Linked DNA regions of Homo sapiens. The protein of the gene in region 2 interacts with the protein of the main gene of each other region in a pairwise test. Each region holds a gene or a part of one and is shown on either strand. Other genes may lie near its edges.

Region 1 (3,280 bases), on a different chromosome or scaffold from region 2:
AGAATGCACCATTGCACTACAGCCTGGGCAACAAGAGCAAAACTCTGTATTGAAAAATAAACAAACAAATAAATAAATAAATAAAACAGAGACCTAGATTAGCTGGGCATGGTGGTATGTGCCTGTAGTCCCAGTTACTCAGGAGGCTAAGGAAGGAGGATCACCTGAGCCCAGGAATTCAAGGCTGCAGTGAACTATGATTACACCACTGCACTCCAGCCTGGGTGACAGGAGACCCTGTCTCAAAAAATATTAATAAATAAATAAAAGAATGAGCTAGATTAGCTAGGCATGCTGGCATGTGCCTGTAGTCCCAGCTAATAGGGAGGCTCAGGCAGGAGGATCACTTGAGGACAGGAGTTTGAGGCTGCAGTGGGCCATGATAACACCCCTGCACTCCAGCCTGGGTAATCCCAGCACTTTGGGAGGCTGAGAAGGGTGGATAGCTTGAGTCCAGGAGTTTCAGAGCAGCCTGGCCAACATGCAAAACCCTGTCTCTACCAAAAAATACAAAAATTAGCTAGGTGTGGTGCGGTGGTGCATGCCTGTAATCCCACCACTTAGGGAGGCCAGGTCAGGTGGATCGCTTGAGTCCAGCAGTTCTAGAGCAGCCTGGCCGATATGGCAAAACCCCATCTCTACAAAAAATACAAAAATTAGCCAGGCATGGTGGCTCACGCCTGTAATCCCAGCTACTCATGAGGCTGAGATGGGAGGATCGCTTGAATCCAAGAGGCGGAGGTTGCAGTGAGCCGAGATCCCACCACTGGGCTCCAGCCTACGCGACAGAGCAAGACCCTGTTTCAGAAAAAAAAAAAAAAAAAAAAAAATCACACCTCTAATCCCAGCACTTTGGGAGGCCAAGGTGGGTGGATAACCTGAGGTCAGGAGTTTGAGACCAGCCTGGCCAACATGGTGAAATCCTGCCTCTACTAAAAATACAAAAATCAGCTGGGTGTGGTGGCACGCACCTATAATCCCAGCTACTCAAGAGGATGAGCCAGGAGAATTGCTTGAACCTGGGAGGTGGAGGCTGCAGTGAGCCGAGATCGTGCCACTGCACTGCAGCCTGGGCGATGGAGTGAGACTCCGTCTCAGAATAAATAAATAAATAAATAAATAAATAAATAAATAAATAAGAGTCCTAGAGACAGGGGAAAACAGAGACCCAGAGATAGAGATGCAGTGACCCAGGAGAATGGACGGGGACCCAGAGAGAAAGAGAAGGGGCCTAAGATTCTGAAAGAAAGGTCATGGCTAGAAGAGAGAGAGGTTCAGGACCCCGAGTATCCCCCATGTTCTCACCTCCCAGCCCTCCCCGGTGTCCCCAAACTCCTTCCTCTGAGTGGATGCGAGGAACTCCTCCAGGGTCACGAGGCGGTCCTGGTTGGTGTCCACCTGGGGAGCCAGATAAGGGTGAGTGACAGAGCTGGGGGCCCGTCCTCTCCCCCGCCTGGCCCCCACCTCACATTCTTCATCACATGCTCCCGCATGCGCAGTCGCTCCTCCTCCATCTCCCGCATGTCGTCCTCCTCATTCTTTGGGTCGTACACTTTCTCCAGCTGCAGGAGCAAGCGAGAGGCAGACAGCATTGAGAGGTCCCCAGCGAGCTCATTCCCGACAACTTCAACTCCCAGCAGTCCTTTGGGCACGCTACCACTCCTGGGAGCCGTTTTTGCCCCAGGGGCTGATGGGAGTTGTAGTTTTCACTGAGCTCCCATCCAGGGGGATTTAAGGGGACTGCAGGAGGAAACAAGTGGCTGATTTGGGCGTCCCTCCAGGTGCCCGAGGCTTCCAAGATGCTCACCTCCTTGGTGAAGAGTGCCTCCAGCTCCTGCTCATCCAGGACACCATCACTGTTGATATCTGAAGGGAAGAGGATAGCAAGGTATCTCAGGGGACCGAGGACGGGATGTGTAAGGTCCCTGGTGAAGAAATTTTGGGCTGATGTGGGGTCTGTTATCAGAGGACAGGTAACTACGGGTCTCCCGCGGTGGAACGGTGGCCCCCAGGCTTTAGTACCCCACTAGACCCGTTGCTAGGGCCACTGCCTAGCGACCAGGGGGTTGAGAATGGAATAGATCAAAGGGAGGGTTCGAGGAAACATGCTTGGGTCACTGTCATGCAGGATTCTCTGGCCCTGGCATTCAGTGCTCTGGACACAGAGTCAGCTCCAGGGTTATCAGGGACCTCTGCCTCCCAGACAACCAGGCCAGTGCCGACTCCAGTTGTGAGGGGAGCCTCTCCTACCAACGTAGACCCCACAGCTGCAGGGCTTCAGGCTCGGTCAGCCACACTTCCTGTCCTCACCACCGGCCCTCCTTCCTCGGCTCCCTCAGACAAGCACAACCTTCCTCCTGAGGAGGAGGCCAGGAACCCTCATCTTGCAAATCCAGTGGTTAATTTCCACCTGCATCTGACTTGACTTTCTGCCCTTGGCTTCCAGAACATGATTCTGTCCTCTCTGGCTGCCCCTCCACCTCCTTTGACGGCTCCATCCTCTTCCTGACCTCCACATGCTAGTGTGGCCCAGGGCTCAGGCCTGGGGGTCTCTTCTCTGCCTAAACTCTGGATCTGCGCTGTCCAGTACAGTAGCCGCTAGCCACATGGGCTGTTTAAATGTAAATTGATTAAGATTAAAGAAAATGTAGGGGCCAAATTTAGGGGCTCATGCCTGTAATCCCAGTACTTTGGAAGGCTAAGGCAAGATCATTTGAGCACATTAAGTTCGAGACCAGCTTAGAAAAGATGGCTAGACCCCGTCTCTACAAAAAAAAAAAAAAAAGTAAAAAATTGGGCCGGGTGCGGTGGCTCACGCCTGTAATCCCAGCACTTTGGGAGGCCGAGGCAGGAGGATCACCTGAAGTCAGGAGTTCAAGACCAGCCTGGCCAGCATAGTAAAACCCCGTCTCTACAAAAATACAAAAATTAGCCAGGCATAATGCCAAGTGCCTGTAACCCCAGCTACTCAGGAGGCTGAGGCAGGAGAATAGCTTGAACCTGGGAGGCGGGGGTTGCAGTGTGCCAAGATCATGCCATTGCACTCCAGCCTGGGCAACAGAGCAAGACTCTGCCTCAAAAAGAAAAAAAAAATTTAAAAATTGGCTGGGCATGGTGGTGTGCACCTATGATCCCAGCTACTCTAAGGGTTGAGGTGGAAGAATCACTTGAGCCCAGGAGGTCTGGGTTGCAGTGAGCCATGATCACGCCACTGCACTCCAGCCTGGGTGACAAAGGGAAGCCCCATCTCTAAAAATAAAAAAAATGAAAAATAAAAAAA
Region 2 (3,500 bases):
ACAGAAACCATGGCAACGGGAGGGAGGGGCAGAGACCCCGCCAGACAAAGGCCCTCTGAGCCCCGCCCCTGGCGTCTCTTCCTTCCTCCAGGTGCTGCTCCCCGGCCCCCCTCATTCCCTCCGAGAAGGCTCAGCACGGGTCCGGCACTGGGAGGCAGGGACTCGAGGTCTTGAAAGGGACCGGCAACACTCCCACCCATGTGTGTGGCATGGCCCTATAACGGATGCCTGAACAGACCAACAGACTCCACACCTCCCTCCCGCCAGTCTCTGGCACTCGGCTGCCTCCAGCGGCTTCCAGGGGTTCACAGTGCCCAAAGGGGAGCACTACCAAGCAGGGCCTGGCTTCCTACTGCCAAGTCAGAGATCTCTGTGTTAGGGAAACTGAGGCCTCAGGTCCTGCCCACACATGGGAAAGTCTTTCTGGGGCAAGGTGTGTCTCCCTCAGTGGGGCCCTTTCCACTGCACAGAGGGAAACTCAGGCACCGGGTGAGGAAGGCTGGCCTGATATAAAGGAGGCCCCAGACCTGTTCATCGCTGGCGCCTCAGGCCCCAGGTACCGCCTGTGCAGGAGCCAGGAGGTGCTGGACAAGACGCGGATCACGCGGAGCTGGGCCATTTGGCACCGTCTCCCTGGAGGCCTCTTCATTTCAGGCATCCCTCCGCTGTTCCCAAGGCACCTGAATGACCTCTTTTCCCTTCTGATTCATGGCGGTGGACTCTGGGAAAGATAACGGGAGCCTAGGCCTCATCTATGAAATGTACCCCTTGAGGGAGGGTGCCAAACCCAAGGCCTGCCCTGAGTAGCCTCTTCAAAGTCACCCCAAACTGCCTCAGGGCCCAACCCAAGCCAGCAGCTGTCCTTGTGTCCACAGGCCAGGAGACCATGCTAAGAATCACGGCACTGGCGGGGCGGGGTGGCTCACGCCTGTATTCCCAGCACTTTGGGAGGCTGAGGTGGGCGGATCACCTGAGGTCAGGAGTTCGAGACCAGCCTGACCAACATGGAGAAACCCTGTCTCTACTAAAAATACAAAATTAGCCGGGCATGGTGGCACATGCCTGTAATCCCAGCTACTCTGGAGGCTGAGGCAGGAGAATCACTTAAACCTGGGAGGCGGAGGTTGTGGTGAGCCGAGATTGCATCACTGCACTCTAGCCTGGGCAACAAGAGCGAAACTCAGTCTCAGAAAAAAAAAAAAAAAATCACAGCATCACAGATTCTAGTGCTGGATACAGAGAGGGAAGAGGACAGTCTGAGGTCTCATGGTGAGGAACTGGACCCTCTGGGACCCACAGTCTTGGGTGGCCATGAGGATGCACGGGTCTCTGCTCTGTGCATGGCTTCATGGCCCAGAGAGGCTTGGACGCTTCTGCTCTGGCTCTCCTAAGCCTTCCTCAGCCCCCTCAGTCCCTTACGGCCTGGCCTGGCAACACAGCAGAACCCCTAGGAACCCCTACAAGAGAGGGCAAGGCCCCACTAGGCCACAGCACTGAGATTCGGAGGCCAAGGAGCAAGAGGAACCAGCCTCAACAACTATCATGCAGTCATCAGCCAACACCATGGCCACATTCTACCACCACACAGTACCGTACGTGCACCCAGCACTGAGCCTGTGCTCACAGTGCAGCCCTAAGGAACATGCTTTCATTTCACTCCTCTGGACAATTCCCAGTCTCAGAGGCCCTCACCATGGACTTCAATAGCTTCTGAGCCTTCCCCAGGCTTGGTCTCAGTCTAAGACTGGGGCTTATGGGAGAACAAGCATAATATTAGGGAAAGAATGAAGTCCTAAATTGCCAGCTATAACTTGAGCATCACTGTGAGAGGATACGGACTAGGAGAAAAAGTGGGAAGTCAAAAGGTGCAGCTGCAGCCGGGCGCAGTGGCTCACACCTGTAATCCCAGCACTCTGGGAGGCCGAGGCAGGCGAATCACTTGAGGTCAGGAGTTCGAGACCAGCCTGACCAACATGGTGAAACCCCGTCTCTATTAAAAATACAAAAATTAGTTGGGCGTGGTGGCACGTACCTGTAGTCACAGCTACTCAGGAGGCTGAGGCAGGAGAATCGCTTGAACCCAGGAGGCGGAGGTTGCAGTGAGCCGAGATCATGCCACTGCACTCCAGCCTGGGTGACAGAGTGAGACTCCATCTCAAAAAAAAAAAAAAAAAAAAAGGAGTGGAGGGGGTCCCCCATGACCACATGGCTGTAGAAAGCTTCATACACAGAGTCTTGGGTCCCACCTTCCAGGACAGACAGCTCCCTTTCCGCCTCCTAAAAGAAGAATTGAGGCCCGAAAGCCAGGGCCCATAGGCACAGGCAGAACACACACGCACCCACACCGTCTGCCTGCTGTCCTGCCTGATCCGTTACTTCCAGCCAGCACAGACTCCCAAAGGGCCATGGCAGTTGGAGGCAGGCGCTTAATCACTACATGGGTCATGTCCTGACATCTCTGTTCCCTGTTTAAGTGCATAAAGTCCCTGAGCTTCAGTTTGTCCATCAGTGAAATGGGTGTAATATCAGTCCCAGCCTCACAGGATTAAATATGACAAGATAATGAAGAATTCAGCTCCACACAACAGTCAAGGCTCAATCAGAGACAGCTGTGGTTATCACCTGAGGGGAAACAGGCCCAGTGAATGCAGCCCTAGACCCAGTGAGTGGGTGCTGGTAGGGGAGAATCCTTAGGCTGAGGCCAGGGATCCTTTGTCCGCCCCCCAGCAGGGGAAACCCAGAGTGAGCTCATCTCGGGGCTGTTGCTGCATTTCCAGGCATTCATCTCAGCCTGTGGCTGGCCTTCCGGCTTTGGAGAGCAATGGCCGCTCGGGAATCTAAGAGCAGCCCTCTGCCTTCCTGCTAGCCCTCCCGCCAGCGTCCTTCTCCCAGCCACAACTTCCTGTGGCCAAAGAAGGGGCCTGGAATCCTTCTCGAAGGCACCACCTTCTCTGGGATCTTGGGCCCGATGGTTGCTGGGGTGGGACAAGGTACAGAGCTACCTGGACTGGCTCCAACTCAGTGACCGCCACTAGAATGGCCCACAGGAGTGCAAAGATAAGCCTGGGCAGGTGTTCACCTCCTAGACCCTTCCAGTTGGCAAAGCCCTGGGGGGCCCTTGGGCTCTCACCCCCACCCTAGCACCAGGCAGCCCTCTGGCCTCTTCCTCTTTTGGGCTCCTCCTCCCCCAGCTGCTTCCTCCTTTTCCTCTGGTGTGGACACCACTTCCCCGAGAGGCCCAGCCCTGCCCTGCCATGTCGTGCAGACTTCATTACCTCCTCCTCCCGCCGGGGGCACACACAGTAGGTGCTGCCATCACCTCCTTTGCATATCCTGAGGCTGTCAGCAGCCTTGGAGCCCCCAGATTCCTCCAAGCCATAAGGATATCTTCTCCCCAACAAGGCTGAGATGACCCCACCTTTAGGCCTTTGCTCAGACTGGTGTGGTGCTGCCTTTCAAGCCTTGTAAATGTGCACAGAGGCCGGCACAGAAGAACCAGC
Region 3 (4,071 bases), on a different chromosome or scaffold from region 2:
GCCCTGGTTCTGTTGGAAGGAGGCTCTCAGATCGAGGGTCGCATAGACAGGGTCTGCTCTAGGTCTGCCAGGATCGGCCTTTCCAGCAGGATGGGTCCCTGGCATACCCACCCCAGGACCTGGAATCTTCTTGTTCCTGGTTCTTAGCCATCTAATTTTTGTTCTATTTGGACCTTTCATTGATGAGAATTAGCAGCCCGTCCCCACCCCCCAGCCCCTGCCTTAAAGAAGTGGACATTTTAAGCGGCTCGAGTTGGTCTTCGAGTTCAAGAGGACAAATGGAATACAGAATGACGAACCTGGCTTATGGCCAGGAGCCCCCAGTTCCTTTTTTTTTTTTTTTTCTGGCAAGTTTGTGTAACCAAAAGGCCCCAGTTCTTAGCTCAACATGAGAGTGTAAAACCCAGCGTTCAAGGAATGTGAACCAATACCTGGTATGGGCAAGGACAAGGAGGAGAATAGGAAGCAGAAGGAATAGAAGGACCCAGACTAACTCCAGAGGAAAATGGTGAGCTAAGACCTTTACTGCATCACAAATCAATAAATACTTATTGAGAAGCTGCTACATGCAAGATTCTCCTGCCTGTACCACTACGCCCGAGGTTTTTGTACTGTGACACTGAGGGACAGTCTGCCAAGCTGCTCACGGCCCTTCAGTGAGTGGGTGGGGGCGGAGGAGAGGGTCTGTGTTCTGAGGGGACATTGGCCCTGGAGACAGGGTGTGTAGGAGATTCGTGAAGGGGGAACGAGGCACTGGTGGCTGGCTGAAGAGCTCCAGAGCCCAGATGGTCCTAGGACTCCTGGGCTCCTGGCTAGACCCTGAGTGAGGGATCCAGATATTGGAATGCCTGGCTGAGGATCACTCATTTGAGGTGTGACATGAAGAAAGTCACTGGGTCCCTTTCCCCCAGATGTAGGTTTTCTTGGGACATGCCCTGCTGCCCCTGCCCCCTGCCCCCACCTGTCCCTAGTAGGTCACTCAGTGAGGTGAGGCGTGCAGTTAGGGGAAACTCTTAAGGTTTCTCAGAAGCTGGGACCCGCCGGGTCTCCAGTTGGTTACTAAGATGTCCAACTGGGTCAGGGCTCGTGGTCAGTTTGAAGCTGCAGGCAGAGGAAGACGCCCAGTAACCTAATCAGGCGAGGCCAGCGGCTGTGACCGGGGGCCAGGGTGGGAGCACATTGCCCCTTTGGGGCCGCGGGTTTTTAGTCTGATTTGGGGTATTGCCCAGACTCTGTGATTAGACTCAGGGCAGCTTCATGGGCTTGCAACTGGGGCAGTCACACGGGGGCCTGCACCCAGCAGGACCCCCCACGAGGTTTAGTGCTCTGCTGTTGCCTTCTTATTTATAATAATTTTTCAACAAGGGGCCCCATGTTTTCATTTTGCATTGGGTCCCACAAATTATGTAGCAGGTCCTGGTTAGATGAATGGTCCGGCTCTGATTCCACCTACGGTTTGGATCCGAGGGGCCAGGCTTTGGGTAGTCAGCCCTTCTGCCCACTTTCTCCCCGTGTCCTACTTACACTTCCCAGCCTTGGGATCTGGGCAAGCGAGAGGCGGGCTTCTCTGAGCAAGTCTGGGAACATGGTTGGTGGAACTACAAAGTCCACTCCACAAAGTCCACTCCAGCCGGGGGAGCAGGAGGGAGTCAGACAATATCTTAGGGTAAGTTTGGGACAGGAGAGTTGGTAGGAGCCAGGGTTTGGCTCCTTCATGATCTAACCCAGAGTGCAGCCCCGAAACAAGTCCTCTCTCCAGGGGGAGAAAAGACAGTGAAGAAGTTTCCAAGAAACCCTTACAACCAGCCTCTGCCGTCGGCTCACAAGGAACCCTGTGTTTCTCTGGTTGAGCTGCTCCACACACACACACATCTTCTGGGAGCCCAGTGACAACCAAGTCAACTGCACCACTACGCTTCACTGGAGAGACTTGAGTGGTGGCAGCGTAGTGCTGGAGACCATTTTCTTAGCCCACCCAAGAAACCTTTCCAAGAATACCTTATCTCTAGAGATTCTACAACAGGTTCCAAGACATTTGTCAGATTAACAGTTTTCTCACCCTGCTCCCTGACTCCAGCCTGCTGGGATCCTCTTCCTTGCTACCATCTGGTCTCACATTCCCTCAGTTTAGCACATAATTGTTGCCTAATAGCTTCCAGTGAGTGATTTTTTTCTCTGGCCAGAGCAGAAGCTATTTGAGGGCAAAGACCAGGTCCTCAACTTCTCCACCCAACACAGAATGTAGTGCCCTGATGACATAATCATATGGCCAGAGACGAACAGCTATGCATTCATTGACTGATTAGCAATGCCAGCCTCCTTACGGTAAGAAAACCTCCAAAGTACTTTCCTGTCTAGTTCCATATTCCGACCCTAAGAGAAAAGGAGAGAAAGAATGGAGAGGTGAAGTATCCTGTTCCCAGTCACATAGCAACTCAGAGGAGGATGCAGGGCCTGAACCCGTGTCTTCCAGCTTCCTCTAAAGGATGTCTCCTAAGGACAGCAGCTCTCCTTATCTGCTTCTTCCACAGAATGGAAAATAAACTCTTAAAGGGCGGGAGCTGACTGACCTGTCTAGATTTTACAGATCCACAGTGGGAGAGGATTCCCACACTGTCCCCTCTCCCTCGGACTCTGGCAAAGGATGTTAGAATTCCAGACAGGGCCTCGGCGACAGGAAGCTACCCGTGTCTACTCACCAGGTCCTCCAGGTTCTCGAGGTCCATTTCCAGCGTTAGCGGGTAGTTCATGGCTGTGCCGGCTGTGAGTCACCAGACTGGTCACTGTCTTATGTTGAGAGGCTCCCCGCCAGGTGCCTCTAGAGAGGTGGCAGCCGTCAGCTGCAAATTTAAGCAAATGAGCTGCGCATCGTCTCCTGAGGCAGTAGGGCCGCGACCTGCCTCACAACTCATCACTTTTTTTTTTTTTTCCACTGGGTCTTTTCTGTTTTTTTGAAGAAAGAGGGAAAATCCCCCACAGCATCAGTGCTAGTCAAGCATTTCAGCTTCTTTCCCGGCAATAATTGTCTCAACTGGGGCCTATGACTAGTTTAAAGGCTGCCCTCACTTCTCCTCCCTATACCCCCAATAAGGGGCTCACAACTTGTAATGAAACCACCACGCAAAGTCAGCAGGTTGATGAGGGAAACTCCTGATCAACAGAGAACAGGAGAAGAGCTCTCCCAGCAACCTCTCCTCCAAGCCACCTCCAAACCTTCATTTTCCTCACCACTAGGGTGATCAACCATTCCAGTCTGCCAAGGACTGAAAAGTCCCTTGACTTGGGAAACCCCTAAGTCCTGGCAAGTTAGGGCACTTGGTCACACTACTTGCCACCATCCTTTTGCCCAACAGAGGCAAAACCCCTTCCCTTCTCAGCTCAAGTTCAGAAAAGATAGGTTAGAATTTTTCAAAGGGAACAACAGTAAAACAATACTGGAAGACAAAAATGAAATCAACTTTGGAAGGCCGAGGCAGGAGGATGGCTTGAGGCCAGGAGTTGGATACCAGCCTGGGCAACATAGCAAGACCATGTCTCTAAAAGAAAAAAAAAAAGTGAAATCACCAAGAAAAGCACATAGTTACAGAGTCATTTTCTGACTCAAAAATAATGATGTTCTATCTATAAATTAACTTTGTTTGCTCATAAATTATTAACCTCATAAACTACCAAGCTAGAGATGGCTTCAGAGATCATCCAGTCTAACCCTCAATTTTTATTCAGGAGGTCCGTGAGGCCGAGAGGGAGAGCAACTTACCCGAGATCCCACAGCTAACCAGTGGCAGAGCTGGGACTTGAACTCAGGTCTTTTGACTCCACCTTTAGTGTTTTCTCTACTCCAGGCTGCCACTCTTGCAGGCACTCATAACCTCTGTCCTTTCCCTCAACTCTGTCCTGTCTGAGGGCCGCTTCCTTTAAGAAGCCGTTTTGTAGATGTTGATCAATTTCCCTTCCAAGTCTCATTTTGTGGCTTTTTCTTCCAGAAGTGGGCATTTCCTCTCTTGATCCACAATGATGTGAGAAAGATGACTGCACGCACAGAGGCACCCACACATGGTGGCTGCTTCTTGG
Region 4 (3,500 bases), on a different chromosome or scaffold from region 2:
TAAATCTTATTAAAACTGCAGCCACCAGTCTGGGTAACATAGCGAGACCCCATCTCTACAAAACATTTGTAAAAAATGGTCAGGTGAATTGGCAAGTGCCTGTAATCCCAGCTACTCAGGAGGTTGAAGTGGGAGGACTGCTTGAGCCCAGGAATTCTAGGTTATAATGGTGCCAATGTACTCCATTCTAGGGGTGACAGAGGGAGATTCCATGTCAAAACAAAAAAACCCCCAAAACTGTTACCAGATCTGACCCATTCTAATACCTGCTGGCCTGAAGTGATCAGCCCTTCAGTCCTTCATCCTTAGACAGGAAATCCCTCCAAGGGAGATTCAATCCTTGCTGGTGGAAGAAATTACCAGAACCTACACAGTTTCTTTATATACAATGTCTACATATAATAAAAATTACTAGATATGTGAAGAGAGATAAAAATGTGATGAATAAAAAAATGGATACAGGCACACAGATGATCTCATTGGATTTAGTAGATAAGAATTAGATGGACTAAACTGATGAAAAGATGGGAAATTTCATCAGATAATTTAAATGTATTAAAATGAATCAAATTGGCATACTACATTTAGAAGAAAACAAGTTCTGAAATTAATAACTCACTAGATGATTTGACAGAAGACTCAGGCACAGAGGAAGACAGCTTAATTAACTAAAACACAGGTCAACAGAAAATATTCAAATTGAAGCAGAAAGATATGCGAAATGAACAAAACAGATCAGACAATAAGAGACATGAAGGAAAAAGGCCAACATATCTGTGATTTGGGTCCCAGAAGCAGGAGAGAAAGAAAGAAAACCAGACAAAGCCATATTTGAAGAGATATTGAGTGAAAATTTTCCAAAGTTGATGAAAGACGTCAATCCACAGATAAAAGAAGCTCAGTTAACCCAAAGGAGAATAAATAAAATGAAAACCACATATAGGCACATTATATTCACTGTGGTAAGTCAAAAATGAGAGAAAAACTTTATGAGGATAACAACAGGCTACCTTCAAAGAAGCATAACTTTCCAACAGAAACTAGGAAAGTCAAAAGATAATGGAATGAGAGTGTAAAGGCAGGCCAGACTGGAAGAAGAGATTTGCAGCACGTGCACACACACACACACACACACACACACACACACAGAATTTTGACAGATGGCTTGTATCCAGAATATATAAAGAACTGTGACAGATCAATAATAACAATAATAAAAGATCAGCGGCACAATAGAAAAATGGGCCAAACAGAAGTTCAAGACCAGCCTGGGCAACATGGTGAAACCCCATCTCTACCCCTTCCCAATATCCAAAATAAAAAAATTAGTTGAGTGTGGTGGTGGACACCTATAGTCTCAGCTTCACGGCTAATTGTGCCACTGCCTTCCAGCCTGGGCAACAGAGTGAGACCCTGTCTCAAAAAAAAAAAAAAAAAAAAAAAAAAAAAAAAAAAAAAAGAGAGAGAGAGAGAAAGAAAGAAAGAAAAAGAAAAATGGGCCAAAGGCTTGTAGAGGCATTTTAAATAGAAAATATACAAATGACTTGACCCAAAAACATATAAGAAGATGCTTAACATCATTAGTAGCCAGGGAAATACAAATTAAAACCATAATGAGATACCACTACACAGCCACCAGAATGACTAAAGTTAAATGGGCAAACAATACTAAGTACTGGTGAGGATGTGAAGCAATACACACTTTGCTGGTGGGGATGGATGTAAACTGATTTGGACTATGAAACAGTTTTGCAGTATCTACTAAAGCTAAACATACACTGGACTTATTACCCAACAATTTTTATCCTGGGCATATACCCAAAGGAAATAAGTTCATCAAAAGACATGAATGAGAATGTTCATATTAGCATTATTCATAATAGCTCCACACTGGAAACAACTAAAATTTCTTCAGTAGTGGAATGGAATACACTGTGGTGTATTCACACAAAGGAACGCTGCACAGCATTAAAAAATAACAACACGTACAACAACAAATGAATCTCAAAAACATAATGCTGAGCTAAAGAACCAGATGCAAATATTATACACTGTTTAATTACATATGAAGTTTAAAAGCAGGCACAATTGGTATATGGTGAAAAAAGTTATAAAAGTGGTTACCTGTGGGAGTGAGTCCTGAATGGAAGGAAGCGAGACGGAATCTTTGGGAGAGCACGGGGGGCTGAAAATATCCTATATCTTCATCTAGAGCCGTGGTGAGTGATTTTGGCCCCAGAGGACGCTTGGCAATGTCTAGAGACATTTTTGGTCATGGCATCCAGGGAGGGGCGCTACTGCATCATGCAGTGGGTGGAGATCAGGGATACTGCTAAACATCCTACAGGGCAATGGACAGCCCCCCTCAATAAGGAGTTGTTCAACCCCAAATTTCCACAGTGCTGAGGTGAGAAACCCTGATCTAAATGGTGGTTCTGTGGGGGTACACTTACATAAAGTTTACTAAGCTGTACTCTTAAGATGTGTAAACTTTACTGTAAGTTATAACTCAAGTAAATGAAGTTAAAAGCTGTCATAAACCTCACAAAAATACCAAATAGCTCCTCACTGAAACCTAACAAACACAGAAAAACTTTGTTTCAGTTTTAGAAATACTCTAATTCATTAAACAGTCCTAACAACTGAAATTTGCGGGGATTATAGTAGGTCAGGAAGAATTAAACTCTGTATGTAAAGTCCCCCTTAAATGCAAAGAAATATCTATACCTTTCTTTATGGCAGGAGATATATGAATTATATCTGGGTAGTCACTAGAAATAAGTATTTGTAAAAACACAATGAATGTATAATGGAAGACCCCATACATGTAAGATTCTTCTGGAGTCATCAAAAGATGAATAGAGAAAAATATACATATACCTTTTTTTTTTTTAAGTCAGGGTCTCACTCTGTTGCCCAGGCTGGAGGGCAGAGGCAAGATCATGGCCCACTGCAACCTCAGTGTCCCCAGGCTCAGGTGATTCTCCAGCCTCAGCCTCCCAAGTAGCTGGGACTACAGGTGTGCACCACCACACCCAGCTAATTTTTTGCATTTTTTAAAGAGACGGGGTTTCACTATGTTGCCCAGGCTGGTCTGGAACTCCTGGGCTCAAGTGATCCACCCGTCTTGGCCTCCTAAAGTGTGGGAATTACAGGCGTGAGCCACCACGCCTGGCCACATGTACTTTTTAACAGTAGTCTAATCTGAGTTCTCTGGATAATGACTTCCTGTCATTAATTATCAACATGACTTTTATACAAATTAAGAAATCTATGGGCGTGTGCTCTTGGGCTGCTCTCTGGCCAGCACCCTCTCCTGTGTCACCTCTCTTGTGTCCACAGTCTAACCCATCTCTTCATTTCCCTCAACCTCAGGTGGAGCCTCCACCAAAATGCAGATTTTTCCAAAAATCCTTACAGGGACGATCATCACCCTAGAGGTTGAACCCTTGGATACAACAGAAAAATGTAAAGGCCAATATCCAGGATAAGGAACGAAT

What was found. The genes of interacting proteins can lie anywhere in the genome.
Region 1: the proteins of GNAI2 (region 2) and NUCB1 interact in a two-hybrid assay, tested with the Homo sapiens proteins (one study listed by BioGRID).
Region 3: the proteins of GNAI2 (region 2) and CXCR5 interact in binary tests that used the Homo sapiens proteins (3 or more experiments, as listed by UniProt).
Region 4: the proteins of GNAI2 (region 2) and RGS20 interact in binary tests that used the Homo sapiens proteins (3 or more experiments, as listed by UniProt).

What each region holds. Positions count from the first base shown.
Region 1 is NC_000019.10:48,917,312-48,920,591, reverse strand, and holds part of NUCB1 (nucleobindin-1 precursor), read right to left. Parts: intron 1,889-3,280; exon of another isoform or gene 1,867-1,888; coding exon 1,808-1,866; exon of another isoform or gene 1,701-1,807; intron 1,563-1,700; coding exon 1,470-1,562; intron 1,399-1,469; coding exon 1,306-1,398; intron 1-1,305. UniProt on the Homo sapiens protein: Major calcium-binding protein of the Golgi which may have a role in calcium homeostasis. Acts as a non-receptor guanine nucleotide exchange factor which binds to and activates alpha subunits of guanine nucleotide-binding proteins (G proteins).
Region 2 is NC_000003.12:50,242,704-50,246,203, reverse strand, and holds part of GNAI2 (guanine nucleotide-binding protein G(i) subunit alpha-2), read right to left. Parts: intron 1-3,500. UniProt on the Homo sapiens protein: Guanine nucleotide-binding proteins (G proteins) are involved as modulators or transducers in various transmembrane signaling systems.
Region 3 is NC_000011.10:118,882,621-118,886,691, reverse strand, and holds the start of CXCR5 (C-X-C chemokine receptor type 5), read right to left. Parts: upstream 2,801-4,071; 5' UTR 2,751-2,800; coding exon 2,700-2,750; intron 566-2,699; exon of another isoform or gene 1-565. UniProt on the Homo sapiens protein: Cytokine receptor that binds to B-lymphocyte chemoattractant (BLC). Involved in B-cell migration into B-cell follicles of spleen and Peyer patches but not into those of mesenteric or peripheral lymph nodes.
Region 4 is NC_000008.11:53,887,372-53,890,871, reverse strand, and holds part of RGS20 (regulator of G-protein signaling 20), read right to left. Parts: intron 1-3,500. UniProt on the Homo sapiens protein: Inhibits signal transduction by increasing the GTPase activity of G protein alpha subunits thereby driving them into their inactive GDP-bound form.